Linked DNA regions of Homo sapiens. The protein of the gene in region 7 interacts with the protein of the main gene of each other region in a pairwise test. Each region holds a gene or a part of one and is shown on either strand. Other genes may lie near its edges. The genes, in order: TULP3, KIAA0232, EIF3A, HDAC9, FAM53C, LCP2 and WNK1.

Region 1 (4,289 bases), 2.0 Mb from region 7:
AAAATAAAATAATTCACTATCAGGGTTTTCTTCCTATACAGTTTTTCTAAATTCACTAGCTTGATTCTCCATATAATTAGTTACAACTTCATCCCTAAAACTTCCAGTTAAAAAAAAAATCTCCAAAGCTGGGCCAGGTGGCATGAGCCTATAATCCCAGCTGCTTGGGAGGCTGAGGTAGAGGGATCACTGGAGTCCAGGAGTTCAAGGCCAGCCTGGGCAACCTTGCAAAATCCAATAAATAAATAACAATCAATGTTCATCCAATGCCATGATTAAGAGTCTTTCCAACCTTAGGAGAGACAGGATCCTGAAAACCTTCCCATTCTTTACTGTGATGGCTTTTTTTTTTTTTTTTTTTTGAGATAGGGTCTCACTCTGTCACCCAGGCTAGAGTGCAGTGGTGCAATCACAGCTCACTGCAACCTCTGCCTCCCAGGTTCAAGTGATTTTCCTGCCTCAGCCTCCCGAGTAGCTGGAACTACAGGTGCATGCCACCACTCCTGGCTAATTTTTTAATTTTTTGCTAGAGGCAGGGTCTCCCCATGTTAGCCAAGCTGGTCTCGAGCTCATGTCCTCAAGGGATCCACCTGCCTCAGCCTCCCGAAGTGCTGGGATCATACGTGTGAGCCACCGCACCTGGCCTGTGATAGCTTTCTTCATGCCATGGGGACACAGACAGAGGAATGTCAACCACATCTGGTGAAGCACATCAGGAAAGACTCTGATTAGGCAAAGGGCAAGAAGGGACAAAAGGGAAGCCTCTCCAGGGAGGAAATACTCTTTTTTCTATACTGCTGTTGTGTTAAACCACTGTGACCTCAATGGCATGAATACCATCCTATATAGGCATCCTTCCTAAACTCTCCTAGACTAGGACCATAATAGGGAAGCAGGAGAGTGGCAGTGGCTAAGCAGGAAGACTTTAGAATTATGCAAAATAGGTTTGAATTTGGCTCTGCCACCACTTAGTGCAACGTGGGGTAGGTAAGTCACTCCCTAAGCCCCAGTTACCTCATCTTTAAAGCAGAGGTAAGAAATCCTACCTAACAAGGTGGCTGCAAGGATTACAGGTGATAATATATATAGATATATATGCATATGCTTGGTCTGTCGTAAACACTCAATAAATGGTGGTTAGAAGAATTAACACCTAGTATCATTATCTTATTTCTAGGCTCTTAAAATCATCTGTTAAGACCTGGTATTAATACAAAATTAATAAAATAAAGTTCATCGCTGGCTCAAACTTATAAAATAAATTAGAACTTCTAGGGTGAGAAACAAGACATTTAACTTGTAGGTCCTTCTGTATTTCTAATTCCTCCTATTCCCTAAAACTCACTCTCCTTCCACAATGTCATGTTCTTCCGTAATAAAAAGAAAAACCAAAAGAACAAACAGTAACATTCAAAAACTCAATCATGGGAGACAGGTGAAAATAATTACATTAACAACTACCCGTCCATTTTCCCACTTCGTGGATAAAGCTCTTATTTGTGGGAGGGTAGAGCTTGCTGCCTATTAGACCATGAGCTCTTTGCAGAAAATGAGAACACAGCATCTGGGGACTGAAAGATACAATCTACTTCCAGCTGGCTTGGTCTAATACCAGAGTTAGTTCCCTAAGGCCCATCAACAATCTATTCCCACAACATTCTTCTCTCTCTCAAGAGTTTTCTTAGAAATCAATTCTCATACCTTCTGATTTTCTTCTTTTTCCAAGTACATATAGTAGGTGGGGAAGAGACCCCGATCCATTCCCCTTTTATCCCGGATTATCCGACATCTTACTGTGACACCTTGAGGGGCAGGACTATACACAAAGTCCTCCAGGTCGTCTATGTCTCCCAGGAGGTTATCAGCTGGTTGGGCGGCAGTAGCAGAACCGGAAGTGCCTGTATCCTGAAAGGACAGCCATACATGAGCAACAACAGGCCGAGACTCAAAATCTGATTCTCTTTGAAAAACACTTAGTGGACAAAGCAACTTAGTAATTTACCCGTGTCTTCAGTCTTCTGACAGAATGAGGAAAACTGAAAAGTTAAATTAAGTATATGAATATTGAGAGTAATGAAGAGTAAGTATCAAAATGGGACAAAGCCTCACAATAGCTGACCTGAGACAGAAAAAATTAGATCATAAACTAAATTTGAGCTTACACTTCTGAAGGAACCCTCACTCAGTAATGGTATTTAAATACTGAAGATATGTTTGAGGGCTGGGCACGGTGGCTCATGCCTGTAATCCCAGCACTTTGGGAGGCTGAGGCGGGCGGATCACGAGGTCAGGAGATCGAGACCATCCTGGCAAACATGGTGAAACCCTGTCTCTACTAAAAATACAAAAAATTAGCCGGGTGTCATGGCGGGCGCCTGTAGTCCCAGCTACTCGGGAGATTGAGGCAGGAGAATGGCGTGAACCCGGGAGGCGGAGTTTGCAGTGAGCTGAGATCATGCCACTGCACTCCAGCCTGGGTGACAGAGCGAGACTCCACCTCAAAAAATACATAATAATAATAAATAAATAAATACTGAAGATATGTTTGAGAAAGAGTCAAATTAGCTCTAATGGAAGAAGTTTCAGAACTACATACGGTTGAATTCTGGCTTGATGCAGAATTGGGTCTTTCTAAACATGCTGACTGGGATATTCCATCAGTCTCCTCATCGAAGTTCACACTTTCAGAGATATCTAGCAGAAAAGGAAGAACTGTTAGCACTGCCAACACTGTTTAAAAAAGGTCTTTGAAACAAAGATAGTTTTAATTTTCTTGCTTAAAACATTCTTAACTATTCTGACCGTAAACACAACTATTTTGTCCAAATACATAAAACAGGCAAATTCATAGAGACAGAAAGTAGAATAGAGGTTACTAGGGGCTGGGGGCAGGGGAGAATGAGGAATTATCTTGAATGGGTGTGAAGTCTCTGGGATGATGAAAAAGTTCTGGAGATGGATGGTAGTGATGGTTGCACAACATTGTTAATACACTTAATGTCACTGAATCTCACACTTAAAATTGATTAAAGTTGTAAATTTTAGGCAGGGCAGGCTGGGCGCGGTGGCTCATGCCTGTAATCCCAGCACTTTGGGAGGCTGAGGTGGGCAGATCACGAAGTCAGGAGATTGAGACCATCCTGGCTAACATGGTGAAACCCCATCTCTACTAAAATACAAAAAATTAGCCGGGTGTGGTGGCACGCACCTGTAGTCCCAGCTACTCAGGAGGCTGAGGCAGGAGAATCGCTTGAACCTGGGAGGCGGAGCTTGCAGCGAGCCGAGACTGTGCCACTGTACTATAGCCTGGGAGACAGAGACTCTGTCTCAAAAAAACAAAACAAAAAAAATTTAGGCAGGGCACAGTGGCTCGTGCTTGAACTCCTAGCACTTTGGGAGGCTGAGGCAGAAGGACTGCTTGAGGCCACCAGTTTGAGACCTGTCTCCATAAAAAGTTTTTTTAAAAAAATTAGCTGGTCACGATGGTACCTGTGTGTCTGTAGTCCTAGCTAGCTGAGGTGGTTGGATCACTTAAGCCCAGGATTTTGAGGCTAAAGTGAGCTATGCTTGTGCCACTGCACCCCAGCCTGGGTGACAGAATTACACCCGAACTCTTTTTTTTTTTGAGACGGAGTCTCGCTCTGTCGCCCAGGCTGGAGCGCAGTGGCGCGATCTCGACTCACTGCAAGCTCCGCCTCCCGGGTTCACGCCACTCTCCTGCCTCAGCCTCCCAAGTAGCTGGGACTACAGGCGCGCGCCACCATGCCCGGCTAATTTTTGTATTTTTAGTAGAGACGGGGTTTCACCGTGTCAGCCAGGATGGTCTCTATCTCCTGACCTCGTGATCCGCCCGTCTCGGCCCACCCGAACTCTTAAAAAAAAAAAAAGTGTACTTTTTGTTATTTGGAAGGGAAGGGAAGGCTTCAGTAAAAACAGGAAAACTTGCTAGACAAATTCTAAAAAGAGCTGCAGCACTGGTAAATTATTATGATTTTTTGAGATGGAGTCTCACTCTGTTGCCCAGGCTGGAGTGCAGTGGCACCATCTCAGCTCACTGCAACCTCCGTCTCCTGGGTTCAAGCAATTCTCTTGTCTCAGCCTCCCCGGTAGCTGGGATTACAGGTGTGCGCCACGAAGCCCAGCTAATTTTTTTGTATTTTTAGTAGAGACAGGGTTTCACCATGTTGGTCAGGCTGGTCTCAAACTCCTGACCTCAGGTGATCTGCCCACCTTGGCCTCACAAAGTGCTGGGATTACAGGTGTGAGCCAACATGCCAGGCCAACACTGG
Region 2 (4,289 bases), on a different chromosome or scaffold from region 7:
CAAAAAGTTAGAGGGGTCTCCCTCTCCAGAGGCAGAATTATCCCCTCCAGCAAAGGATCAAGTGGAAATGTATGTAAGATTGTATTCGGTAATAAAGTGTGCATTTGTTAAAATCAGATGAATAACTGCTACATGGTTTCCGTTTTCTGTTTGTCATCTTGTTTAGTTTCATTATATATAATGTAAGAAACATTTATCGAGCGCTTATATGCTTGACACTGAGAATTCAAAGGTGAAACAAGATGGTTCTGTCCTTGGTGTTCATATTCAATATTTGTGGAACAAATGAGTGAAACATAGAAGGTTATTATTTGCTAAGTCTATGTATGTACTATTACCTTTAATATTCACAACAGCCCTTTGAGACAGCTGTGAGAAATTAGGATTATCAGCCGGGCACAGTGGCTCATGTCAGTAATCCCAGCACTTTGGGAAGCCAAGGCAGGTGGATCACCTGAGGTCAGGAGTTTGAGACCAGCCTGGTCAACATGGTGAAACCCAGTCTCAAATATTAGTTGAGCATGGTGGTACATGCCTGTAATCCCAGCTACTCAGGAGACCGAGGCAGGAGAATTTCTGGAACCCGGGAGGCAGAGGTTGCAGTGAGCTGAGACTGTGCCATTGCACTCCAGCCTGGACGACAGAGCGAGACTCTGTCTTATTAAAAAAAAAAAAAAAAAAAAAAACAAGAAAGAAAAGAAATGATTATCCATGTTCACAAGCAAGAACACTGAGTTCCCACTGTTTACTGCAGAGGGAACATAGGCAATCCTTGACCTGCCAAACCTGCTTCCTAAAGATACTTTTATTTTTTTGTTCGTAAATAGTCTTAAAATAATCTGCATTATAAACAGACTTCCCTATTATACATTTTATTTTAATCTTTCGAACCTCTGAAACCTAAGAAAAAAATAGCATTTCCTTGGTTTGTATAGACCTGTATTATCCAGCACAGAAGCTGTAAGCCATGTGTGACTACTGAGCACTTGAAATGGGGCTGGTTCAAACCGTGATGTGCTGTCAGTGGACAATTCTCATTGGATTTCAAAGACTATATATAAAAAAAAGTAAAGTATTAAACATTTTAAAGTATTGATTACATGTTGAAATGATAATATCAGGAGTTTAGTTAAATATATTACTGGAGTGCATTTCACCTATTTCTTATGTTTTTAATGTGCCTACTAGAACACTTAAAATTACATATGAAGCTCAAAATATATTTCTGTTGGTCAACTCTGACATAGACTGAGAAAGAGAATCAAGTTCAGGCCCTTTGAAAACATGGCCTTTTACCACTTCATGTGTGACCTTGAGCATTGCCTCTGAAACAACAGTCCCCAGTAGCCAATGTGACTTTAAATTCTGCCCTTTGCAATCTGTTCTGCTCTGAAATCTTCAGTGGCCCCCAGTTTCCTAGCAAATCAAAAATACTTTCTCATTTTCAAGCCCCCTGAAACCAGCCTCCCTGGCTTTTTCTACGCTGCATTTCTGGTGATCACAGCTCTAGTTAGTTTTCCATTCTGTGAGCATAACATGTGTGTCTTGGTGTCCTCACACAGGCTCTCAGGCCTCACAGGTAGTACTCACTAAACTTGTGGAATAAATCTGGAATTTCAAGGCTCAGTTGTGGCCCACTTTAATTGTTGTAGGCCTCACCGACATCCTCTTTCTGAATACTTGAATGTGATCATTCCTACCCTTTCTGAGGGCCTGCTTCAATGCCAGGCAGTATGCTAGCAGTTACGTAAGAAGCTGCTGTTCCAACTCATTTTGCATATTAATTCCTTTACTCCTCACAACCCTGAGAGGTAAATATTACTAGCTCTATTTTGTAGGTGAGGAAACTGAGCTATGGAGAGGTTAAGTAACATGCCTAAGGTCACACAGCTAGTAAAGCAGGCAGAGCCAGGATTTGACCTCAGAGAATGTGGCTTCAGAGCTCATACTCTTGACTGATTGCTACCGAGCTTTTTAACCGCATATATTTTCAACGCTCACAATAACTTTGGGAGGTAAGTCATAGGATCACCATTTTGCAGTTGAGGAAATAGTCTGAAGCAGTAAATAATGAGCTTAAAGTCGCAAGCAATAGTGACTTAGCTGAGATTCAAATTCAGATAATGCTTACTGAAGAGACTGCATTCTTTCTTCTACTATTTGTCCTTTTTGACTTCTTAATTAAAATGCAAACTTTGAAGATAAAAACTGTCATCTTACATATTTTCTCAGTAATCTTACAGTGCGTATCACAGTGCTGAGCAAAATGGTGCTTGATGCATGGGACTAATCTTAAGCATATTTTACTGTATTATAAATTATTGTAAAGTTAATGATTCTTGGATGATGTGAATGTTGACACTACTAAAATGAAATATTCCATTCTTCTGGTTGGTAATGTTGTTTTACTGTATCTAAAAAATCTGCATACTCGTGTTTTGAAGTCTTTACTCTGTTTTTCAGGTACTATGAAGCATTTCCACCACTTTCTGAGAAACCAGTTTGCCTGCAAGAAATCATGACTGTGTGGAACAAGTCTAAAGTCTGTTCTTACTCTAGCTCTTCTTCATCATCCACAGCCCCACCAGCTAGCACAGATACTTCCTCTCCTAAGGACTGCAACAGTGAAAGTGAAGTCACCAAGGAAAGAAGCAGTGAAGTACCCACCACTGTGCATGAGAAAACCCAGAGCAAAAGCAAAAACGAGAAGGAAAACAAATTTAGTAATGGCACAATTGAAGAAAAGCCTGCTTTGTACAAAAAGCAAATCCGACATAAACCTGAAGGAAAGATTCGCCCTCGCTCGTGGTCTTCTGGCTCCAGTGAAGCAGGCTCAAGTTCCAGTGGGAATCAGGGAGAATTAAAAGCATCCATGAAGTATGTTAAAGTAAGACACAAGGCACGAGAGATTCGAAACAAAAAAGGGCGGAATGGGCAAAGCAGGCTTTCTTTGAAGCACGGTGAAAAGGCTGAAAGGAACATTCATACTGGAAGTAGTAGCAGTAGCAGCAGTGGTTCTGTCAAACAGCTGTGCAAGCGGGGTAAGAGACCTTTAAAAGAAATAGGGAGAAAAGATCCTGGGAGCACTGAAGGAAAAGACCTGTACATGGAGAATAGAAAGGACACAGAGTATAAAGAGGAGCCCTTGTGGTACACCGAGCCAATTGCTGAATATTTTGTTCCTCTGAGCAGAAAAAGTAAACTAGAGACCACATACCGAAACAGACAGGATACAAGTGATCTGACATCAGAGGCAGTGGAAGAATTGTCTGAATCAGTGCATGGTCTTTGTATCAGCAACAATAATCTTCATAAAACATACCTCGCAGCAGGTACTTTCATTGATGGTCATTTTGTAGAAATGCCTGCAGTTATAAATGAGGATATTGACCTCACTGGGACCTCATTATGTTCTCTACCAGAGGACAATAAATACCTGGATGATATTCATCTATCAGAATTAACGCACTTCTATGAAGTGGATATTGATCAATCCATGTTGGATCCTGGTGCCTCAGAAACAATGCAAGGAGAAAGTCGGATTTTGAATATGATTCGACAGAAAAGCAAAGAGAACACAGATTTTGAGGCAGAATGTTGCATAGTGTTAGATGGTATGGAGTTGCAAGGGGAACGTGCAATATGGACAGATTCTACCAGCTCCGTAGGTGCTGAGGGCTTATTCCTGCAGGACCTTGGCAATCTGGCTCAGTTTTGGGAGTGCTGTTCATCCAGCTCCGGTGATGCTGATGGGGAGAGTTTTGGAGGAGACTCTCCAGTTAGACTCTCTCCCATCTTAGACAGCACAGTGCTCAATTCACACCTGCTTGCTGGCAATCAAGAGCTCTTTTCAGATATTAATGAAGGATCTGGTATAAACTCTTGTTTTTCAGTGTTTGAAGTGCAATGCAGTAATTCTGTTTTACCATTTTCTTTTGAAACACTCAACTTGGGAAATGAAAATACAGATTCTAGTGCTAATATGCTTGGGAAAACACAGTCTAGATTGCTAATATGGACCAAAAATAGTGCCTTTGAAGAAAATGAACACTGTTCTAATCTTTCAACAAGAACTTGTAGTCCATGGTCCCATTCAGAAGAAACACGTTCAGACAATGAAACATTAAATATTCAGTTTGAAGAATCCACACAGTTTAATGCCGAAGATATTAATTATGTAGTTCCTAGAGTCTCGTCAAATTATGTAGATGAAGAACTTCTAGATTTTTTGCAAGATGAAACTTGCCAGCAAAACAGTAGAACTTTAGGTGAGATTCCTACATTAGTTT
Region 3 (4,289 bases), on a different chromosome or scaffold from region 7:
ACCTGAAAAGGAACCGGAATTGCAGCAGTATGTGCCACAACTGCAAAACAACACCATCCTCCGCCTTCTGCAGCAGGTAAAAATAAAAAAATAAAAAAAGTTTTGTGATGTTATGTGCTCATCATGAAACTAAAAACTGGAAAAATCTAGAACTGCCTAGGAAGTGAGAACCTCCCCAAGTTCTGCCCCTGGCAAAAATTAGTCTATTTATTAATTTGAAAATCAGAATTATTATATTTACATATTTTGTAACGGACGCTTTTGTTTTTTGGCTGAACACTGTCTTTGGGCATTTTTCCTTGTTAGTAATGTAGGGCTACCTTATTCCATTTAAGGTACTGTGGTGTATTTATTCAGACTCTCTTGATGAAAACCTGTATTCCTAGATTTTTTTTTTCCCTGTTAGAAATCTTGTAGCATTGAGCATCTTTCATACATGTATCTTTGCATACTTCTATTACTTTCTGTGGCATAAGAAGTGGAATTAGTCATAGGGTTTATGGATTTAAAGCTTTAATAGCTATTCAGAAGCCTGGATTAATAGACCCCCCACCATGAGTGAATGAGACAGCCTTTTCATATATTTTAGTCCAGGGGCTTAAGTCAGTAAGTGCTCCCATTTTGTTTTCCATTTGTTGCATTTGGGAAGGAGGGCGTTTTATTATATTTTCATCTCAGTATTTGTGCACATTTCATTGACCTGCTTTCTTTTATGTGAGTAGTGTTATTTCTTATGTGCTATACAAATAATTGAAGGCTAATTAGCAGTATAACTATAAATAGTAATGCTGCCAGTCTCCTTCAGACAAAAATTCTATAAGAAGTGTTTAAATATATTCGGTAAGTAGCAGGTTTTTAGGCTTTTTTGTTTTACAACAACTAGGATTTGAAAAGATTATAGGTTTGAGGAATAGTATGATAATGGTTCTCAAAGCATGGAGTTTAGAGTCGATGGTCTGGGATTAGCATTCTGGCTTTAACAATGTACTGCTAACATAAATTCTCTGGCATAATTTCTACTTCCCATGACTGTCATGAGATTGCACATAAAAAGTGCTGAATAAACAGTGGCTAGTGTTATTAACCCTTTGTTTTCTATGCAGGTGTCACAGATTTATCAGAGCATTGAGTTTTCTCGTTTGACTTCTTTGGTTCCTTTTGTTGATGCTTTCCAACTGGAACGGGCCATAGTAGATGCAGCCAGGCATTGCGACTTGCAGGTAGGTATGTGCTGTAAGGAGACAGGAGAAGGCCCTTGAGGGCTAGAAAGACACATACCTTCTGTTTCTCAGCTTTTGGTACAGTGATACCATTTTAAAGTTTACTGAGTGAACTTTTCCAGCTTTTGTATATGACATTCTTCTGTTACTTTTTGACTTCATGCTTACTTGTGGATTTAACCATTGATAATTTAATTTTCAAAGGTTCGTATTGATCACACTTCTCGGACCCTGAGTTTTGGATCTGATTTGAATTATGCTACTCGAGAAGATGCTCCGATTGGTCCTCATTTGCAAAGCATGCCTTCAGAGCAGATAAGAAACCAGCTGACAGCCATGTCCTCAGTACTTGCAAAAGCACTTGAAGTCATTAAACCAGCTCATATACTGGTATGCATCTTCCCGGGGAAATAAATCCCAGAAGTTTTGAGGGACTCTTAACGCCATGCCATGTCTTTTACAAAAAGGTTTGAGACAATATCTGAGAGAAGGGATTTATGATATGTTTCCTATAGAATTGTACTTGGTAGTTTTGTTATTTGATCAAATACACAAATCATTGAGCTTTCTTCCATTGAACAAAATACTACTCTGTGTAGGTAATGTAATAGGGTGGATTATGTTACAGAAACAACAGAGTGGACATAGGATTCCTCAAATAGTGAAATACAGTGACTGGATTTTTCCCTCCTGCTTAAGTTATTTCTTTTTTTTCTTTTTTGAGATGGAGTCTCACTCTCACCCAGGCTGGAGTGCAGTGATGCCATCTCGGCTCATTGCAATCTCTACCTCCTGGGTTCAAGCAATTCTTGTGCCTCAGCCTCCTGTGTAGCTGGGACTACAGGCACGTACCACGTGCACAGCTAATGTTTTGTATTTTTAGTAGAGATGGGGTTTCACCATGTTGGCCATGCTGGTCTCAAAGTCCTGGCCTCAAGTGATCCACCCGCCTTGGCCTCCCAAAAGTGATGGGGTTACACGCATGAGCCACTGCCTGTAACAAGTTATTTCTTGTATGTGAGCTCTGTTAATGAACACCTAAGGTAGGTTTGGTGCAGAGAAAAGTTGTCTTATCTAGGAGAGCTTCTTTAGCTGCGTCATTGCTATTAAAAGACTGAATAGGAGCAACACCATAGCATTTAATACCGAAAACAAACAGCTTGGATAGTGTCATCTTCCATTATCAAATGCAGATACATAGAAAGGCAGTACATCAGGATTATTTTGTAATTTCTTTGATGCCTAATACCAGAGAATGTTAATTTTGGTCATGTAAAAAAATTCATTTGTTTTTGAAGCAAGAGAAAGAAGAACAGCATCAGTTGGCTGTCACTGCATACCTTAAAAATTCACGAAAAGAGCACCAGCGGATCCTGGCTCGCCGCCAGACAATTGAGGAGAGAAAAGAGCGCCTTGAGAGTCTGAATATTCAGCGTGAGAAAGAAGAATTGGAACAGAGGGAAGCTGAACTCCAGAAAGTGCGGAAGGCTGAGGAAGAGAGGCTGCGCCAGGAAGCAAAGGAGAGAGAGAAGGAGCGTATCTTACAGGAACATGAACAAATCAAAAAGAAAACTGTCCGAGAGCGTTTGGAGCAGATCAAGAAAACAGAACTGGGTGCCAAAGCATTCAAAGATATTGATATTGAAGTACGTAGCATCTTAGTTATTAAAAAATTAGTTTTATCCAGGTATTTTGTACTCTTAGAACCACAGTCCTTTACCATTTGTTGGCTTACTGGGTTATTTCATGCATTTTGGTACAGCTGGTCATGACTAAATCTGTGAGTAAGCATATGTTTATTGCTCTGTGAAGTTTTGTGTTTTTTTTGAGACGGAGTATTATCTTGTCGCCCAGGCTGGAGTGCAGTGACGTGATCTCAGCTCACTGCAACCTCCGCCTCCCGGGTTCAAGTGATTCTCCTGCCTCAGCCTCCCAACTAGCTGGGATTACAGGCGCCTGCCACCATACCTGGCTAATTTTTGTATTTTTAGTAGAGACAGGGTTTCACCATGTTGGCCAGGCTGGTCTTGAACTCCTGACCTCAAGTGATCTACTTGCCTCAGCCTCCCAAATTGCTGGGGTTATAGGTGTGAGCCACCACACATGACCTGTTTCATAGACACCTTATACACATAGCCTGAAGGTAATTTTGTACACTATTTTACATAATTTTGTGCATGAAACAAAGTTTTGAATGCATTTTGACTGACCTGTCACATGGGTCAGGTGTGGAATTTTACACTTGTGGCACCATGTTGGTGCTCAGAAAGTTTTAAAATTGGGAGCATTTCAGATTTTGGGTTTTTGGATTAGGTTTGCTTACCCTATTTAGTAGAGTCTGGGTAGATGTAGGTTGGAGTAGTGAGAAAAGGATGTATGGATATTTTTTTCCTTATGGTCAAATGGAAATAAGGCTATTGTATAATATTTTTACATTTCCTAAATTATCACCCATTGTAACAATAAAAGCAATGTAGGATTTTATTCTAGAAAGCAGTGAGTTATGTTAGGCATTGCTTGTTTCTCTTTATTAACAATTGTGCATTTGTATTACCTTTCAGGACCTTGAGGAATTGGATCCAGATTTTATCATGGCTAAACAGGTTGAACAACTGGAGAAAGAAAAGAAAGAACTTCAAGAACGCCTAAAGAATCAAGAAAAGAAGGTAAATGAAAGGGTTGGTAAACCTTTAACATACCAAGTTAAGAGAGATTTTTTAAAACTACGTGTGTTTTCGTGTCATTCAGATTGACTATTTTGAAAGAGCCAAACGTTTGGAAGAAATTCCTTTGATAAAGAGCGCTTACGAGGAACAGAGAATTAAAGACATGGATCTGTGGGAGCAACAAGAGGAAGAAAGAGTAAGTTTTTTATTTAATTGTAATATTTTTAGATTGTAATAAAATCCTCTGCCAGTAATGGAACCAAGGATTCAGAATTGCTTTATTTTGTATTCTTCTGCTAGAAATGGTGCTCTAATGGCTGCCTATGAACAGATTGGTAGAAAGAGGGAAAATTTCACAATAGAGATTACAAACGAAACTTGGAAAACAAAGGACAACTGAAAA
Region 4 (4,289 bases), on a different chromosome or scaffold from region 7:
CACATACTTTTGCTACTTTGAGAGTAGCGAAGGGCTAGGCTGGAAAACTTTCTGTTCGGAAGCATGGTATCCAATCCATGCTTCCTTCATGGCTCTGCCCTTGTTACGATGGAGGCCAAAAGAAGAGAAAAACTCCAGCAACACTTGCCATAAAACCAGCAAGTGATGAAGATCCCTTTCCCCTACTGCCGTTAGAAAGATGATTAAGCCTCTGCCCATGAGAGTTTATTTTGTTTTGTTTTGTTTGTTTCTTACATCATAGTACAACAAAGTTATTACTAAGCCAGGTTTTAGCTATCCATTTATCAGTAAACAAAGTATCAGTTTGCAATATCATGCCTCTCATGCCTCTGTAACATAACTTGTAGATGATACAGCACAAAGGCAAGGGAATAGAATTTTAATACTCAGGACCTTAATATTTTCCAGGAATTTTCCAGGAATGAGAAGATGGTGCTTTTTTAAGCCTACCACAGCAAAAAGTAGTGGAAAAACTGTCCAGACCAGGTTCTTTAATATCATTTTGCTTACGAATTCATAGAAAATCCTTTACTGGCCTGTCTGATATTATGCTGCAATCACTGTTTCTTTGTAGTTGCCTCAGCAGGAGAGCTCCTAAGGATGTGGTACGGTACAGACATCCGCTGTCTATTTTAGCAACATTAAGACTTCCAGGAAGAAATGATCACAAGTTTCCGAGAAACTACTCCAAACGCTTATTGGAATGAAGTGGGGCATTCGCAAAATAAATGTAACGTAGATGCATACAAGTTGCTGAGAAGTGCCTTACTGGCTAATCTTGGCCTATCTGTCATCACCTGTACAAACTTTTTGACATGTCAACACACCACATTCAAGTCTGCCTCAAACTTTTTCTGCAACACTAAAAAATGAGGCTCCATATACATATGCCCGTATGGGCTTGTGTACCAAAATATATACCTGATCATAAAAAGATCTTGTGAATGTATCATCTCAATTTTGCTACAAATGTCTTATGAACATAATGGTGGTTAAAACACTGATATTGTGATGGTGTCCTTGAGCCAAGAAAGCAGGCTTAGGATGATCACATCCTTTTTGCTGTGACTCCCATCAACATTCCTCTTAGACACCCATATCAGTGAAGAGATACCCAATTTCCAAACTGGCGGTTAGAACATTTTGACTTGGCTTGGAGGCTTACTTTGTTCATGTGGATCTGCTGCTGGTATTGCTTCTGCTTCTCCAAGAATTGCTGGTGTTGCTGTTGAATGACCAGCTGAGCCAACGTGCTCTGAGGCAAAGGTGCAGACTGGGTTCGGTTCAGGGGTCTGTGACGGGGCAATTTGTGGGTACCTCTAATGCCAGGTGAAATTCTCTCTTTTGTTGCCAAGGGAGACTGAGGATGTAAGGGAACTCCACCTGAAAAAAAAAATACATGTATATGTGTGTATACACACACACACACACACACACATACACACACACACAATTTTAAGAAAAGATAAGAAGCCAAAGAAAACAGATACATGGTATAAACTGTAAGAAAATTAGTGAATTAGTGATGCTACCAGGCAAACAACAGAAGAATAGGTCAGGTGTGGGAAGAGAGAAATGTCAAGGCATTGGACAGGTACGCATCTGACCATACGACTCACCACAGCCTAGTCTGGTATGAATAAAGGTTAAATGAGGTGAGTCCTCCTACCCCAAGTGGATCTGAAGGAATAAATAAAGATGATAGCCTTTCCCACAGTACCAGGTATCAGGGAAACTTTTGTATAGCACTGTGGATCTCCATCAGGGTCTTGAGTAAAAGAGACATTATCCTGGATCACTAATAAAATAAAACCCTAAAATGACCTGCAAATGGTGCCATAATGAATTACCAGCTACAAGAAGCTTTTGCTGTCGCATTTGTTCTTTCAATAATAAATGCTGCAGGAGAGCCTGGTGGCTGCTGTTGGGTGGCTTTCCCTCTAAAGTAACATGAGGGTGGCTGGAAGATGCCGGGATGCTGCCTCCATACTGCCCAGGCAGAGGAACACCTTGCCTAAGCGTCTGCGTCTCACACTTCTGCTTTTCTTTGAGTGAATTCGAAGCCTGTGTTGAGAAATAACAAAGATGTTAATCCTCTTTCATCCATGTGGGTCACTGGGTCTCTAAATCATTAGACAAGTTTCCTATGCTGTAGCTTCCCAAAACAAAAGCCCCATCTTACCCAATGGCTGAGCAGGGAAAATGGACTTTTTAAACTAACTCAGTTCAAAAAAGAAGGAATAAAAATAGGGTTGGAGCACTGAAGACAATTTAATATTGTCATTGTATTGAACATAAAAAGGTTTTATAATTAAAATCAGAAGTGATGCTACATACACAATTTTAGGTGGAAAGAATAAATTCAAGAGATCTGTTGTACATGATGATGACTACAGTTAATAACAATATATTGTACATGTGAAAATTTCTCAGAGAATAGATTTTCAGTGTTCTCACCATAAAAAATAAGTATGTGAGACAATGCATATGTTAATTAGCTTAAGTCACTCTACGATGTATACATATGTCAAATCATTATGTTGTAAACCACAAATATATGTACCTTTTATATGTCAATAAAAAAACAAAAAATGCTTATTTCAGGCTTAATAAGTGGAAAGTACATTTCTAAAATATTTTATACACTGTTTAAGTTAAAGGCATACTGGAGAGGTAAAATTTATTCAAAGACTATATCATGGGGATTAAGAAGCTGGAGATAAGATGGACTGTAATTTTGGAGTTGCAAGCAAAAGGAACAATTTACCCTTTCTCTACATGGCTTCTAATAATTTCACAGAGCTGTAAGTGTCCAATGTTTAATTTTTTAAATTAAATTCTTAAAATAACCCAATGAAAGGAGGTAAAAATATGCAGAAATTTGATTTAAACATTTTATATTAATTCATAACAGATACCCAAATCTCTAAATATTGAAAATGACACTCTAGATATTTTGTATAATAAACTACAAAAAATGCTATTAAGAACTTGAAATGTATGATAACACAGTAATAAGGCAATAATAATTATATCATCAATAGCAATAATGAATTATCCTATTCAAAGGATTTAATGAATGGTGGTCATTTTGCTATTACAAAAGCAGGACTCTAATACCTCAAAATTATGTGGCATGTTTCTTTTCAAAACTCATGTTTCATCTTTCAAAATTGCTGTGCACCAGGGAGGCGAAGCAATTTTCAGCAATGGAGAAACTGAAGGACAAAGAGGTAAGTGGTTTGTCTGAGTCACACAGTAAGTCAATGCAATGTTTAATCTAGAAGTGATTCCTTGTCCTGGCCTCTTTTCCTTAAAATTTCCCAGTATTCAATGTAGAAATGGAGTACTACAAATCCCGTTGGCAAAGCAATGCTAAACTTGAAAAATTAATTGTGATGGCCTCATCCACACCAAAATGGAAGCAAAGAAAAATGAAACTTTAATCCAAACCACATTGGTTTATTCATCCAATGGTACCAAATCGTATTACCTCTGAAACATTAACTGGTCTGGCTTTAGTACTTGGTCCTTTGGGAAAAAATTTTCCCTGACCACATTAAAAGTGGTCCATGTGTGAGTTATTGAGAGGAGTGGCTTAGAACATACAAAAATAAGTAAAAATAAAATGCCTATTCATGTGTCATAAGAAGTTTTTGGGTTGGTATTTACTTATCATTAGAAGAGACAGGAAATAGAGAAGGAAAAATATTTTTTAATTAGTGATAACTGTAAAATATTATCCATGAATATTTATTTTTAGTTTCATTCCTAATTCCTTTTTTTGTTTTTCATTTACAAATGTTTCATGTGGAATTTTAAGAGCATAGCTGAATTCTGTATTTTCAATGCTTTCTTTTATAATCCCCAGATATAAGACAACATCCAAATTTTGTTTTTTCCTCATTGGTATAAGAACACAGTACCACATAAAATGACATTATAGTCTATTGACAATACCAGATATAATATCTCTTAGGTTGATTTTAAAATACGCATTGAAACTATGTGTTGAACATACAAGTGAACTTGACACATTCAACTCAGTGGAAGACTTGAAGGTAAAGATTGGCCAAACTGGTGATGAGAGTTGGAATAAATTTCTCTCTAAACCTAATGTATCATATGACCCCTGTATATATACAATTTAATTAACTAACATTTCAGAGATGAATTATTCTGGATAAGGCCCACACATTTTTTACAACTAAAATTGACACTGTTTCAGGGAATATGCCTAGAATAATTATTGCCATCTTCTGCTAGTA
Region 5 (4,289 bases), on a different chromosome or scaffold from region 7:
AGTGCCTCTTGGATGGAGGGGCAGGGGGCACAGGAAGCTTCTCTGGATCTGGGGGCTCAGGTCTTAGGACTTGGGAGAAGGGCTGCTCCTTGGGGGAGTTTCCCCGACTGGGTGGTCTGAGGTGCAGGCTCAGGCCTGAGGGATGGTAGCTGAAGTTGAGGCTGTCCTGGAACTCAGCACAGGAACAGTGGGGCAGGCCCCTCCAGGAAGCACCTTCTGGAAGGCATTTATAATAAGAATAATATTAATGATAGCTTACATTTTTTAAGAACTTACCATTTGCCACATAATGTATGGAGCATTTTATGTGAAAATTTCCAAAAACCTTATGAGGTAGGTAGTATCGTTATCATTATCCCCATTTCACAGATAAGAGAAATTCAATAACTTTCCCAAAATCACATAGCACTCAAAAGACCAAAGGAGGATTCAAATCCAGGTCTGTCTGATGCGAAGGCTAGGTTTTTAAACCACTATGCTCTATTGCCTCCATTGTGACCAACTACCTGGAATCAAAAACATTTCATCTACTGCCTGCCACTCCCTCTCAAAGGTAAAAGAAGTCAAGAGAAACAAACACGTTTGTGAGTGTCCTGCTCATCTCTCCCTCGCCCCTCCCCCACGCTTGCCCTGGATGCTGAAAAGCAGGCCTATGCTCTTCTTTCTCGGCCTTTCCTCCTCTCATGTGTCAACAGCACCAAGTCAGGAGTTAGGACTGCCAAGAAGTAAGAGGTAATCAGGCAGGTAAGAGATCACTTTTATTCCTAGGGAGGGCAAACAGGGTGGGGAAGGCCTTTGACAGTGAAACCTGGGCTTGGGAAACCCTGACTTTGTGCTGCTCATCTTCGTTTCTGTCTGGCCACCCACATATTCCGATTCCCTTCCCCTAGGCCTTCTCTTAAATCCAAACAGATGGAGGGACCAAGAGAAGGAAGGGAAAATGGACTAAAAGAAACAATCCTCACTCACTGTATTCCAACCAAAATTGTGACTTTTGGGAGACGGCTCATTAAGGGACAAAGGGCCTAATCCAAACTCCTCTGGCTAGCTGGCTGGAATTCTGCAGGGGCTGGATATTTGGGGCAAACGACAAGTATACGAAGTCAGACTTGATGGTGGCAAAATTCATACTGAGTGTATTTGGTCTATAGTTCTTCCCTCTACTAACCACTATGAGGGCAGGGACCATGAGTTCCTGCTCTATACTTATGACACAATACCTGGCTTTCAGCAAGTCTTTAATAAACAGGAGGAAGAGACTGAATGAACATGTTTTTGCCAACTCACTTCCCTTGCTAGGTATCCCAGAAAAGAAAATGAGATGCAGAACTGCTGAGCAGCACGAGTTAGGGAGTTCTGATTGTCCACCAGTGATGCCTCCATCTAAATGTCCCTACGATCAGGGGCCCTTTAACTCAGTAATTAATAATCTACGAATTTATACCTCAGATATATTTTCACATGTGAAAAAATGACATATGTACAAGGTTATTCACTACAGTTTCTTTTTTCTTTCTTTTTTTTTTTTTTGAGATGGAATCTCGCTCTGTTGCCCAAGCTGGAGTGCAGTGGGTGCGATCTCGGCTCACTGCAACCTCCGCCTCCTGGATTCCAGGGATTCTCCTGCCTCAGCCTCCTGAGTAGCTGGGATTACAGGCGCCTGCCACCATGCCCAGCTAATTTTTGTATTTTTAATAGAGACGGGGTTTCACCATGCTGGCCAGGCTGGTCTCGAACTCCTGGCTTCATGCTATCTGCCCACCTCGGCCTCCCAAAGTGCTGGGATTACAGGCATGAGTCACCACGTCTGGCCCACTACAGTTTTATGTATCCAAACAAGATTAGAAATAACCTAAATGCACATCAATAGAAAACTCATTAAATAAGCCACTGTACATCTATGCAGTGTAATAATATGTAGCTATATATAACAAGGGAATGAATACTCAGCATTCTGATAGGGAAAGATCTCCTAGCTATATTAAAGTTTTTTTTGTTTTTTGTTTTTTTTTTTTTTGAGATGGAGTCTTGCTTTGTTGTGCAGGCTGGAGTGCAGTGGCATGATCTGGGCTCACCACAACCTCCACCTCCTGGGTTCAAGTGATTCTCCTGCCTTGCCCTCCCGAGTAGCTGGGATTACAGGTGTGTACCACCATGCCAGGCTAATTTTTGTATTTTTAGTAGAGACAGGGTTTCACTGTGTTGGCCAGGCTGGTCTCGAACTCCTGACCTCATGATCCGCCCACCTCGGCCTCCCAAAGTGCTAGGATTACAGGCATGAGCCACTGTGCCCAGCAATTTTTTTTTTTTTTTGAGACAGAGTTTTGCTCTTGTTGCCCAGGCTAGAGTGCAATGGCGCAATCTTGGCTCACCGCAACCTCTACCTCCTGGGTTCAAGTGATTCTCCTGCCTCAGCCTCCCGAGTAGCTGGGATTACAGGCATGCGCCACGACGCCTGGCTAATTTTATATTTTTAGTAGAGATGGGGTTTCTCCATGTTGGTCAGGCTGGTCTTGAACTCCCGACCTCAGGTGATCTGCCCACCTTGGCCTCCCAAAGTGCTGGGATTATAGGTGTGACCCACTAGGCCCGGTCCCATTTTTTTTTTTAAAGGTACAAAATAATATATAGTATGCAACCTTTTGTGTTAAAAACGTGGAAATAAAATAGATGCAGCTAACCACCATGGCACATGTACACCTATGTAACGAACCTGCACGTTCTGCACATGTATCCGAGAACTTAAAAAAGAAAGGAAATAAATATATACATTTGCTTCTTTTTATATAAAGAAATTCTAGTCACATATACTGTATAAGAAACTAATACTTTTAGGGAGGTGGTAGAAGCTGGGTAGATAGGGAACGGGAGAGTAAGAGAGACTTTTCTCAGCATAACCTTTTTGTTGTTATTTTTTAAATTTTGAACCATGTGAATGTATTACCTATTCAAAAAATTAGATTATACAAGTCCCCACAAAGCTAGAATAAGAGCAAACCAACCAGATAACTTTCATGCTAGAACATGAAAGACAACTGTCAATCTCAGAAGTTGACCCTGGCAAGAAGGTTCTAGAGGTAGGCTCGCTAGCCCTGGTCACTGGAAACCAATGATAGAAATGTGTGGAGAGAGGAATGGGTACACACACGTACACAAACACACACGATGCCTTACCAGACACAAGCTGGAAAGAGTTCCCACAGTTGGAGATGTCTGCATGATCAGGCAAAGGCTAAGAAAGAGAGAATATCCATCATGATTTGGATTCAGGACACACTGACAGATTTCTAGGAAGCCCTCTTCAGTTCTCCTCTGCGATTCATGAGCTACAGGGATGTTAGGGACATTAAGTGTTCTTCCTCTTGTCTTCCCAAAGTTAGTAAGTCAAACAATCCACATCTTCCAACATCTCAAACCCTTCTCCACCCAAGTTTTGCTGTCCCTTCTCTATCGGTGGAAAAATCCCTGCCCCCTTCCTTTTGGGCTGGGTTTTGAGCCATTAGTGGGCTCTTCCAGGTTAAGTACCATGATTCATACAGCACAGGACAAGAGTAAAGTAATAGCAACAATCAGCCTCAGAAAAAAGGGGGAGGGGGTCGTGGAGAAGCAGGAAGACTGGTCTTTTACCAGACTGATGCTGAAGCGTGTGCATTTCAGCTCATCCAGAGTCTGCTTCTGTAGCTGCTCAGTGATCAGGGTTATCATGATTCTCCCCAGGATTTGACTTGCACACTTTGGAGCAAATGATGGATGTCTTCCCTGTTGTTCTTCCAGACCTCACTTGTGAGCCGTCTTCTGCCACTGCAGCACCATTCTAGCACCATTGGGACTTCCCTCTCCAGTCATGCCTGCTGAGTCTGCCAATTAGAGGGACCAGCCCCAAGTGATATTAGAGATGCACCTGGTCCAGAGATGGAAAATGCATGGCACACATACCACAGCACCCCTAAGCCAGGCCTCTGGCAGACATCAATTGATCACAGCTCTTTCCAGCTAAGCCTAAACACAGCTTCAGAAATTATGAACTTGGCAGTCCAGATATGAAATAAAATAGAGTTGGCAATCAAGTTGAAACTTATTTGCTACCCTTAAACTGGTTCATGCTCTGTTGTTTCTAACTGGAATACCAGCACCACTTAGAAAACAGCTGCTCAAGTGAGAGAGAGGGATGCCCAAATGATTATTTCCATCAAGATCAGCCCAGTATTTTATCTTCCAGTCAGAAGTGAAAAGAGGTACCCTTCTCCTAAACTACAGAAATAGTAATAAGAGAACAAGGAAGAACAGTG
Region 6 (4,289 bases), on a different chromosome or scaffold from region 7:
TTCTAAGAGCAGCTTCTGCCTCTGGTCGGGTAATATAAGAAACGTACCACTCTTCATTTAATGAATTCTGAAAATGTAAATTTTTAGAAACTGAATAAATTTTACAGTTACAGATGTAAGTGAAAAGAAAAGCCTCTGAGTAATCATTTCCATAAATCAACACCTCAATTCCAGGAGGTCTGAAACATTTGTTTTCTTAATTTGCATTCAGAGTCATTTAGCTGGGGCTAAATAGAAGATATTTTGTGCGAACTGCTTTTTATCATGACACTGGTTGCAAAAATGCCTGTGAATAAGAGTTCCTTACAGTATGGAACCTCTTCAGGAAAGATACAGATACAATAATTTCTTCAGTTTAGCATAATAACCTGCTTGATTAAAAAAATGGGTTATTGAGCAGTTAAGTGACGAATCAAGGTCATAAACATAAAAAACAGGATTATTTTTCTTGCTGTTTAATGCAAAACACATGTTTGCCATTGAAAGCGTCTGAAAGAACGCCAAGGGAAAAGAACATATTGTTCATCTGGATCTTCTCCTTTAACTTTTTTTTCAAATAAATAAAATAAAACAAAGGGAAGATAAAAGTACAGAAGAACATTCAATGGGAGTTTCTGGTGATTCTTTTACCAGGGAAAAGGCAAACAAACAAAAATAAAAACATGCTCTCTTACCTCTTCCTCCGCGGGGGATGGGGGCCGAGGTTTGTTTGGAAGTGGCAAGGGGAAGTTTCTGCCTTCGGCTCTGATAGGTGGTCTGTTGCTAGGGCCTTCAAAAGTATAGAATTCTGACAGTTAATTTACTGTAAGCTATTGTTTGCTGCTATCAAAACACAAAACACATTCCCCCCACTCCCCCAAAAAAATACCCTTGCGATTGGTCCTATAGTTCGCATTTTAAGAAACAAGGGCTTCAAAAATAATTTTCATCTGTTTGAAACCATGGGGGCTGCTCAGGCATTATTCTGTAATCATGCCAGTAAAACTTTGAGAAGAGAACCTCAACTTTGAGTGATTTTTCTAAATGTGCATGTTACATAATATAAAGTGACTAGATCCCTTTATAAAAAAATTCGCAATTGTTTTAATGAATGTGAACGTCAAAATGAATGCTCAAGAGACAAATTTTTCATAGATTCTTATAATATCATCATAGGCAGAATGGATTCCCAACAGCTGATGTAGGGACAATGCAATGATGAAGATAATTATGTTCTTAATGTTTCCACAAAAAGAAATGTAAGTGACCCAAGAGAAGACAAAATTACCTTGAGAATATTGCTAGCTTTTAGAATCAAAGTTGGCTACCCGCTGTTCTAACTAAACAGGTAGACTGTTCAACTCACATAGAAGGCACTACAGATCAGGAAGTTTTTACTGGGCAACTATTAATTACCCAGTGCTTGTGCCTCATCTTCTCTAAAACTCTTTTTTCTCATTTACAGTTCCTTGAAACTTTAGGAGAATGTTTCCTAATCTCAGGAAAGGTTTAGTTGTGTTTATTGCAGTTGCCCAGGGTATTTTCTATGTGCCAGGCTGTGGTTAAAAACAGAAAAATTCTGTGAGTCAAATGTTCTCTTAATTATTTAACCATCATTCATTCATACCTTCAACAAATATTTATTCAGCACAACTCTGTCCAGATCTTGAGTAAGGTATCGTGTGTACATTTTTTTTAATCCTCACAGCAACATTACAAGGTAGGTATTGTCTTCATTTTGCATATGGGGAAATACAGGCTCAGAGGCTAAGCAAATCATGCGCTATCAGTGGCAAAGCCAAAACTTAAACCTGTGGTTACCAAATGCTACTGTGCATGAGTCAGAATCCCTGGGCGACTTGCGAGCACCTGGGGCTCAGAAATCTGCATGTTAGCAAGTACTTCCGGTGGTTCTACACCACGGATTGTCACTACGTCTACCTTGTTACACCACTGAGGAGAGGAGAGTCACCTGTAAGGGCTAAAGCCTCCTGAGCCGCATCATCAAGATTATTTATGATGGTCCTTCCCTGTTTTTAAACAAGTCTCCTGAGCCACATCAACAGGATTGTTTAAGATGCTCCTTCCCTGTTTCTAAACAAGCTGGCCCTGAGCTGCCAGTGCCTTCCTTCTCCAAGTTCCCAGTGCCTAGACAGATCTTCCCCATCCCCATTTTTTTTGCAGTCCAACACTTGCACTTTTATAATGCTTGTTGAATGAATGAAACCTAACAATACAGGAGAGTAACAGAACCAAGGCCCGCATTGCATGGCCATTCTACAGTTAAGAAATGATTCTCTTTCTGCCTCTGCACCTGCAGGCCAGCATCATAGAGTTCTAAGTTACAACAGAGAAGCACATACACTTTTTTATTGCAGTCACCTACCACCCTTAATATCTAGACTCTCAAGGGAGTCATGACAGGTTTTTGGGCAATGCACAGCACAAACTTTATCCTTCTGATGTTGGAACAACCAGTAGAACCAGTAGAGAAGACCGAGGACCAGGTGTCCTGGCAGTCTTAGGGGAAAAGAGATCAATTTGGATCAAGCTAATGTTCCAAAAATAATTAACTATTTGCATTAATAAGCCCCATCACAGACTCATAAAACTGGAGATCTGTGGAACTTGCTTTGGAAAATAATGCTGTGATGTGTCTGGGACTCAGATGGCTACAGAGGCAAGGAGGTAACACAAATGTGTGTTTGCAAAACACAGAGAATTTTGGGGATTGTGGAAAATTAGGGGTTGGGCGAGAAACTGTGAAAACCATGTGGTGAACGTGGACACCACCATAACCTCAAATGCTTAGAAAACATTGAAAACTTAGTGGGTGCCACTGGCGTCAGCAGTGGGATCTCGCCCCTCTATGGAATGATGCATCCAACTGAATACCCTAGATGTGTTCTTGGAAAAAATGTTGATTCTCAGGCTATCAACTCACATTTACTAACATAGTTTTCTACTGAACACACACTGGCCCGTGCACACACTGCATGTGGAACATGACTGCAAAAAAAGTGGCTTTTCTGTTGTCATTCTTCACAGCATTTTTTAAAAATTTAAGTCAACATTTAAAAATTAAATAATTTCACTTTTCTTGAGAAAAAAATTGGAAAATCTGGCAATGCTAAGCCAGTTTCCTGGAATGCTACTTACTAGAGTTGGGTAACTTTCCCTAGTCATTTGATGCTCATTCGACAAGCATTTTTAAAGTGCCTACCAAGTGCCTGTCACTTGCAAGTCTTTAAGGATAAAAAGCACAAATTAGTCCTGCCCCAGTGCCTTTCAAAGTGGTTCATGAACCAGCAGTCACAGCATCGCATGGAATATGTTAGAAATTCAGAAACTCAGGCCTCACCCCAGACCTCCTGAATTAGAATCTGCATGTTAACACAATTCCCAGGTGATCTATATGCACTTTCAAGTTGCAGAACACTCTAAGCGAATACTAATCATGGACGTCCAGAGGTGGTATTATTAAAAACACAGGTCCCTGACTTCACTCCGGACTTACTGAATCAGAATCTGTGACGTTAAGTTCTCTTAGTTTGTATTTTGAACATGCTCCCCAACTCACAACCATGGACAGATTGATCATGGAAATCTAAAACTGCAGAGAAAGGCAAACAGGATTCTGAGGATTCCGTAGGGAAACCGGAGCTGGAGGAATAGTTCTGCACAGGAAGATTGGGGATGAGGGCTGGCTTCCTGGTGAAGTGTGTGTAGGTGTGTCCATGTATGTATGTGTGTATGCATGTGCATGTGTGTGCATGTATTGTGTATGTGTATATATGTGTATACCTGTGTGCACATGTATATATGTGTACATGTGTATGCATGTGTGTGTGTGCATGTATATGTGCATGTGTGTATGGGCATGTATATGTATACGTGTGTGTGTATGTGTTGTGTTTTAGGTACTATCCTATCATTCCGACAGCCCTTGGCACACTGCAGACACGGAATTAAATGTTGAATGAGGAAATCAGATGCTTTTAGGAAACAATAAAACCTTTGTCGAAAGCTTTTGGGACAGGTTAGGGATCCAGTCATAAAGGCTTGATGGCTGAAGCACGTCACAAAAGCCCAGAGTACAAACCTTGAGAGAAGTATGGTGGCAGGGAGGCACTCTGTGGAAAACTGCTGTTACTGAGGAGACAGAAAAAGAACAAAATTTATTTGGATTGGGGTGATGGGGCCAGACAGGGGAGCTGGGTTAGGGAAGCCAGGCTGCAAATGCTTCTTGATTTGGTATCACTTTCCCTGCTGCCCCCAAAACCATGGGGGCTGGGCACAGGGACAGAACA
Region 7 (4,289 bases):
TCTACAGTCCTATCCCCTCCCATGCCGACAGAAGTACTGGCTACACCTGGGTACTTTCCCACAGTGGTGCAGCCTTATGTGGAATCAAATCTTTTAGTTCCTATGGGTGGTGTAGGAGGACAGGTTCAAGTGTCCCAGCCAGGAGGGAGTTTAGCACAAGCCCCCACTACATCCTCCCAGCAAGCAGTTTTGGAGGTAAATAGAATTACTGCATGTTTATATGTAAAACGTATATATGTAATTGGACAACAATGATAAAGGAGAAAGAAACAGGCTCCCCTGGTTTAGAACTTATTTGGAGACCATGTCAAACTAACTTCTGCATGACTTTTTCTTACAGCAGAATGAAATGCCAATGTGGGGTCCTTGTTTCCACTGGCTGTTCTGTTGGGAAGTGAGTGTGCCTTGGAGAAGATGAACCCTATTAGCACTTCACTTCTCTAGCTAGTACTTTAGCCATTATTCTTGTCCTTTCACAAACTTTTTCCATTGGCAGTCATAAGAGTATCTTACCCTCCTGTGCTCTCAGCAATCATTTTTGCCCTGCTAGGAGAAGATCTGAATTCATCTTTGTACTATGCTCTGTCTGCGCTATTGCACACTCTTGGTAAGATGCTGGCTGCATGGCAAGTTGTAGGTTCACACTGCCTAGCAGATATGTTGGCTGACCTCATACCATGCAGTCTATACCAGAGACTAGCTTTAGCAACTTCCTTTGGAATTTTAAGACCATTATCTCTAGATGCTGAATATTGAGAATTTACTAGTAAATTTAGTGCTTCTAGGACGTAGTGGGGAGGGATAAGGAAAAAAATAAGTAGATTATTGGGGATAGTGAATGATAAATCTATTACTACCGAGATTTGAGTTATCTTTTCGATTCACAGAGTACTCAGGGAGTCTCTCAGGTTGCTCCTGCAGAGCCAGTTGCAGTAGCACAGACCCAAGCTACCCAGCCGACCACTTTGGCTTCCTCTGTAGACAGGTACGTAAAACTAGAATTCTCCTTCCTTGACTGGTAAATAAGACGGTATGAAACGCCAAACTGTCAGACCTTTAAATCTCATATTATAAACTGCACTTTTTTTTCTTTTTAAATTTCAAAGTGCACATTCAGATGTTGCTTCAGGTATGAGTGATGGCAATGAGAACGTCCCATCTTCCAGTGGAAGGCATGAAGGAAGAACTACAAAACGGCATTACCGAAAATCTGTAAGGAGTCGCTCTCGACATGAAAAAACTTCACGCCCAAAATTAAGAATTTTGAATGTAAGTATTCCTAATTTGTGAGTTTCATGTTGTTAAAGGAATTTGACACTGAAAAAGATTTTAGAGGTCATCAAATCCAAACCACTCACTTCATAAAATAAAGATAACTATCTGTGTGTGACAGATAATTTTTTTTTTTTTTAGACGGAGTCTCGCTCTGTCGCCCAGGCTGGAGTGCAGTGGCATGATCTCTTCTCACTGTGATTGCAGTGCCTCCTGGGTTCAAGCGATTCTCCTGCCTCAGCCTCCCAAGTAGCTGGGACTACAGACACGTGCCACCACGCACGGCTAGTTTTTGTATTTTTAGTAGAGACAGGGTTTCACCATATTGGTCAGGCTGGTTTCAAACTCCTGACCTCAGGTGACTCACCTGCCTCAGCCTCCCAAACCACTGGGATTACAGGCACCCAGCCAGATAATTTATATAGTACTCTTCTCATTTCATGCCCACAGTCTCTTTGACTTAAATATCACATTTTTAGAAAAATGAAAAGGTAGTTCATAAAGCTATGATAGGGCCAGCAGTTAATATCATTTAAATATTTCTTAAGGCTTAGATGAATTGATGAATGTATAGGATCTTATAATTAGCCAAATGATATTCTTACATTCCATATTTCTATGATAAAGCACTACTTATCTTTTAGAAAAAGAATAGAGAGTTTTAGTAAGTAGCTCAAAGGCTAACGTCTTCTCAAAGATTTTTCTTGCTACCAGTTTAAGAGACAAAGTACTAGTGCTCCAAGGAACAGCGATAACACTATGCTTCCTTAGACATAAAGTCAAGTGCTAATCTGCATTGCTTTTCTGAAATTCAGTAATAAAGCTGAATATGGTCTTTGGAGATGATGTACCTTTTTTCTTTTTAGGTTTCAAATAAAGGAGACCGAGTAGTAGAATGTCAATTAGAGACTCATAATAGGAAAATGGTTACATTCAAATTTGACCTAGATGGTGACAACCCCGAGGAGATAGCAACAATTATGGTACGTCTGCATTTGGAGTTCTAGGTTTTTCCTTAGTACTTGATCTTAATAGCCATTGCTCTAGGCAAATATGCCATATTTTATAATCCATGTTTTTTTAAAGTTATGCATTTACTTCAATGTGAATAAAACTATCACACCCAACCTGTGATTTAGTGATGTTTTTGTCTAGGCTATGTCTAACTAGATATTGAAGTTCTTAAAAAGAGAAGAGCTAACTTGAGTACAAAATAAATAAAAATATAGGTAAGTATGCAGATAGGACAGAAGTCATAAAAGTGACATAAAGTTTGAGAAATGACACTAATTAGACTGACATCACATTTCTTTTACAGGTGAACAATGACTTTATTCTAGCAATAGAGAGAGAGTCGTTTGTGGATCAAGTGCGAGAAATTATTGAAAAAGCTGATGAAATGCTCAGTGAGGATGTCAGTGTGGAACCAGAGGGTGATCAGGGATTGGAGAGTCTACAAGGAAAGGATGACTATGGCTTTTCAGGTTCTCAGGTAGGTTCACCACTCCCATAGTGAAACTTTGTTGATTTAAAATATTTTCATAGTTCTAAATTTGCTATGCAAAATGTCCAGTGATATCACCTGACACCCATGACCGACAACAAACTTTTATGTTCTCTTCACATGTGGCAGTTTGCTTTGCCTAGTCATTGAGATTGCATTTGAGAATGTATTTAATCACTTTTGTTTGTTGTAGAAATTGGAAGGAGAGTTCAAACAACCAATTCCTGCGTCTTCCATGCCACAGCAAATAGGTGAATTTATTTTCTTTCCTTGTTTTTACCTTTGACTTAAGAAGCCATTAGCCGAGGGTGGTGGCAGGCTTCTGTAGTCCCAGCTACTCAGGAGGCCGAGGCACGAGAATCGCTTGAACCCAGGAGGCGGAGGTTGCAGTGAGCTGAGATCGCGCCACTGCACTCCAGCCTGGGTGAGAGAATGAGACCGTGCCTCAAAAAAAGCAGTTGTATGTGCCAATAATGAAGTCTAACAATATTTATAATAATAATGCTATTAAGTTACGTTTGTTTGTTTGTTTTTGACCAGGCATTCCTACCAGTTCTTTAACTCAAGTTGTTCATTCTGCGGGAAGGCGGTTTATAGTGAGTCCTGTGCCAGAAAGCCGATTACGAGAATCAAAAGTTTTCCCCAGTGAAATAACAGATACAGGTAAGGGATTGATTCTGCCACATTGTTATGTAAATTCTACAGTGCCTCTGCTATGTTGAAAGCTTAATCATAAAGCAGTAATTTATGATGACACAGATAATAAAAAAGAATAGAAAACTGAAGTTATAACCAACAGATAAACATATGGGAGAGGGAAATAGATGAAGAATACAGAGAATTACAGAAAAAGCCAAGAAGCACGGCCATACCAAGATATAGTCTGTATAATAGATATTGTAGTATGTGTTTATTTCTGCACTTAGTACTGTTGTCTATGTTTTAAGATTACTCCATATTTTTTATCAAAAACAGATATTTATAGGAGCTGACTTAGGCTAGCAGACAATCTTTTGAATCCATCCTTTTAAAATCAGCTGATTCTTATCTTTTTGTATTCCTTTGCAGTTGCTGCCTCTACAGCTCAGAGCCCTGGAATGAACTTGTCTCACTCTGCATCATCCCTTAGTCTACAACAGGCCTTTTCTGAACTTAGACGTGCCCAAATGACAGAAGGACCCAACACAGCACCTCCAAACTTTAGTCATACAGGACCAACATTTCCAGTAGTACCTCCTTTCTTAAGTAGCATTGCTGGAGTCCCAACCACAGCAGCAGCCACAGCACCAGTCCCTGCAACAAGCAGCCCTCCTAATGACATTTCCACATCAGTAATTCAGTCTGAGGTTACAGTGCCCACTGAAGAGGGGATTGCTGGAGTTGCCACCAGCACAGGTGTGGTAACTTCAGGTGGTCTCCCCATACCACCTGTGTCTGAATCACCAGTACTTTCCAGCGTAGTTTCAAGTATCACAATACCTGCAGTTGTCTCAATATCTACTACATCCCCGTC

What was found.
Region 1: the proteins of WNK1 (region 7) and TULP3 interact in a two-hybrid assay, tested with the Homo sapiens proteins (one large-scale study listed by BioGRID and IntAct).
Region 2: the proteins of WNK1 (region 7) and KIAA0232 interact in a two-hybrid assay, tested with the Homo sapiens proteins (one large-scale study listed by IntAct).
Region 3: the proteins of WNK1 (region 7) and EIF3A interact in a two-hybrid assay, tested with the Homo sapiens proteins (one large-scale study listed by IntAct).
Region 4: the proteins of WNK1 (region 7) and HDAC9 interact in a two-hybrid assay, tested with the Homo sapiens proteins (one large-scale study listed by IntAct).
Region 5: the proteins of WNK1 (region 7) and FAM53C interact in a two-hybrid assay, tested with the Homo sapiens proteins (one large-scale study listed by IntAct).
Region 6: the proteins of WNK1 (region 7) and LCP2 interact in a two-hybrid assay, tested with the Homo sapiens proteins (one large-scale study listed by IntAct).

The regions. Positions count from the first base shown.
Region 1 is NC_000012.12:2,928,653-2,932,941, reverse strand, and holds part of TULP3 (tubby-related protein 3), read right to left. Parts: intron 3,978-4,289; exon of another isoform or gene 3,917-3,977; intron 2,695-3,916; coding exon 2,597-2,694; intron 1,906-2,596; coding exon 1,702-1,905; intron 1-1,701. UniProt on the Homo sapiens protein: Negative regulator of the Shh signaling transduction pathway: recruited to primary cilia via association with the IFT complex A (IFT-A) and is required for recruitment of G protein-coupled receptor GPR161 to cilia, a promoter of PKA-dependent basal repression machinery in Shh signaling.
Region 2 is NC_000004.12:6,858,438-6,862,726, forward strand, and holds part of KIAA0232 (uncharacterized protein KIAA0232), read left to right. Parts: coding exon 1-69; intron 70-2,463; coding exon 2,464-4,289.
Region 3 is NC_000010.11:119,056,533-119,060,821, reverse strand, and holds part of EIF3A (eukaryotic translation initiation factor 3 subunit A), read left to right. Parts: coding exon 1-76; intron 77-683; exon of another isoform or gene 684-811; intron 812-1,103; coding exon 1,104-1,220; intron 1,221-1,424; coding exon 1,425-1,610; intron 1,611-2,518; coding exon 2,519-2,866; intron 2,867-3,781; coding exon 3,782-3,886; intron 3,887-3,968; coding exon 3,969-4,082; intron 4,083-4,289. UniProt on the Homo sapiens protein: RNA-binding component of the eukaryotic translation initiation factor 3 (eIF-3) complex, which is required for several steps in the initiation of protein synthesis.
Region 4 is NC_000007.14:18,645,581-18,649,869, reverse strand, and holds part of HDAC9 (histone deacetylase 9), read right to left. Parts: intron 2,086-4,289; coding exon 1,872-2,085; intron 1,405-1,871; coding exon 1,187-1,404; intron 1-1,186. UniProt on the Homo sapiens protein: Responsible for the deacetylation of lysine residues on the N-terminal part of the core histones (H2A, H2B, H3 and H4).
Region 5 is NC_000005.10:138,340,752-138,345,040, reverse strand, and holds part of FAM53C (protein FAM53C), read right to left. Parts: intron 3,858-4,289; 5' UTR 3,825-3,857; coding exon of another isoform or gene 3,777-3,824; 5' UTR 3,706-3,776; coding exon 3,628-3,705; intron 3,233-3,627; coding exon 3,175-3,232; intron 217-3,174; coding exon 1-216.
Region 6 is NC_000005.10:170,252,445-170,256,733, forward strand, and holds part of LCP2 (lymphocyte cytosolic protein 2), read right to left. Parts: intron 4,132-4,289; coding exon 4,082-4,131; intron 770-4,081; coding exon 675-769; intron 127-674; exon of another isoform or gene 68-126; coding exon 1-67. UniProt on the Homo sapiens protein: Adapter protein primarily involved in signaling pathways within T-cells, as well as other immune cells such as platelets, mast cells, and natural killer (NK) cells.
Region 7 is NC_000012.12:880,805-885,093, forward strand, and holds part of WNK1 (serine/threonine-protein kinase WNK1), read left to right. Parts: coding exon 1-195; intron 196-887; coding exon 888-985; intron 986-1,106; coding exon 1,107-1,269; intron 1,270-2,138; coding exon 2,139-2,255; intron 2,256-2,590; coding exon 2,591-2,764; intron 2,765-2,969; coding exon 2,970-3,027; intron 3,028-3,316; coding exon 3,317-3,439; intron 3,440-3,844; coding exon 3,845-4,289. UniProt on the Homo sapiens protein: Serine/threonine-protein kinase component of the WNK1-SPAK/OSR1 kinase cascade, which acts as a key regulator of blood pressure and regulatory volume increase by promoting ion influx.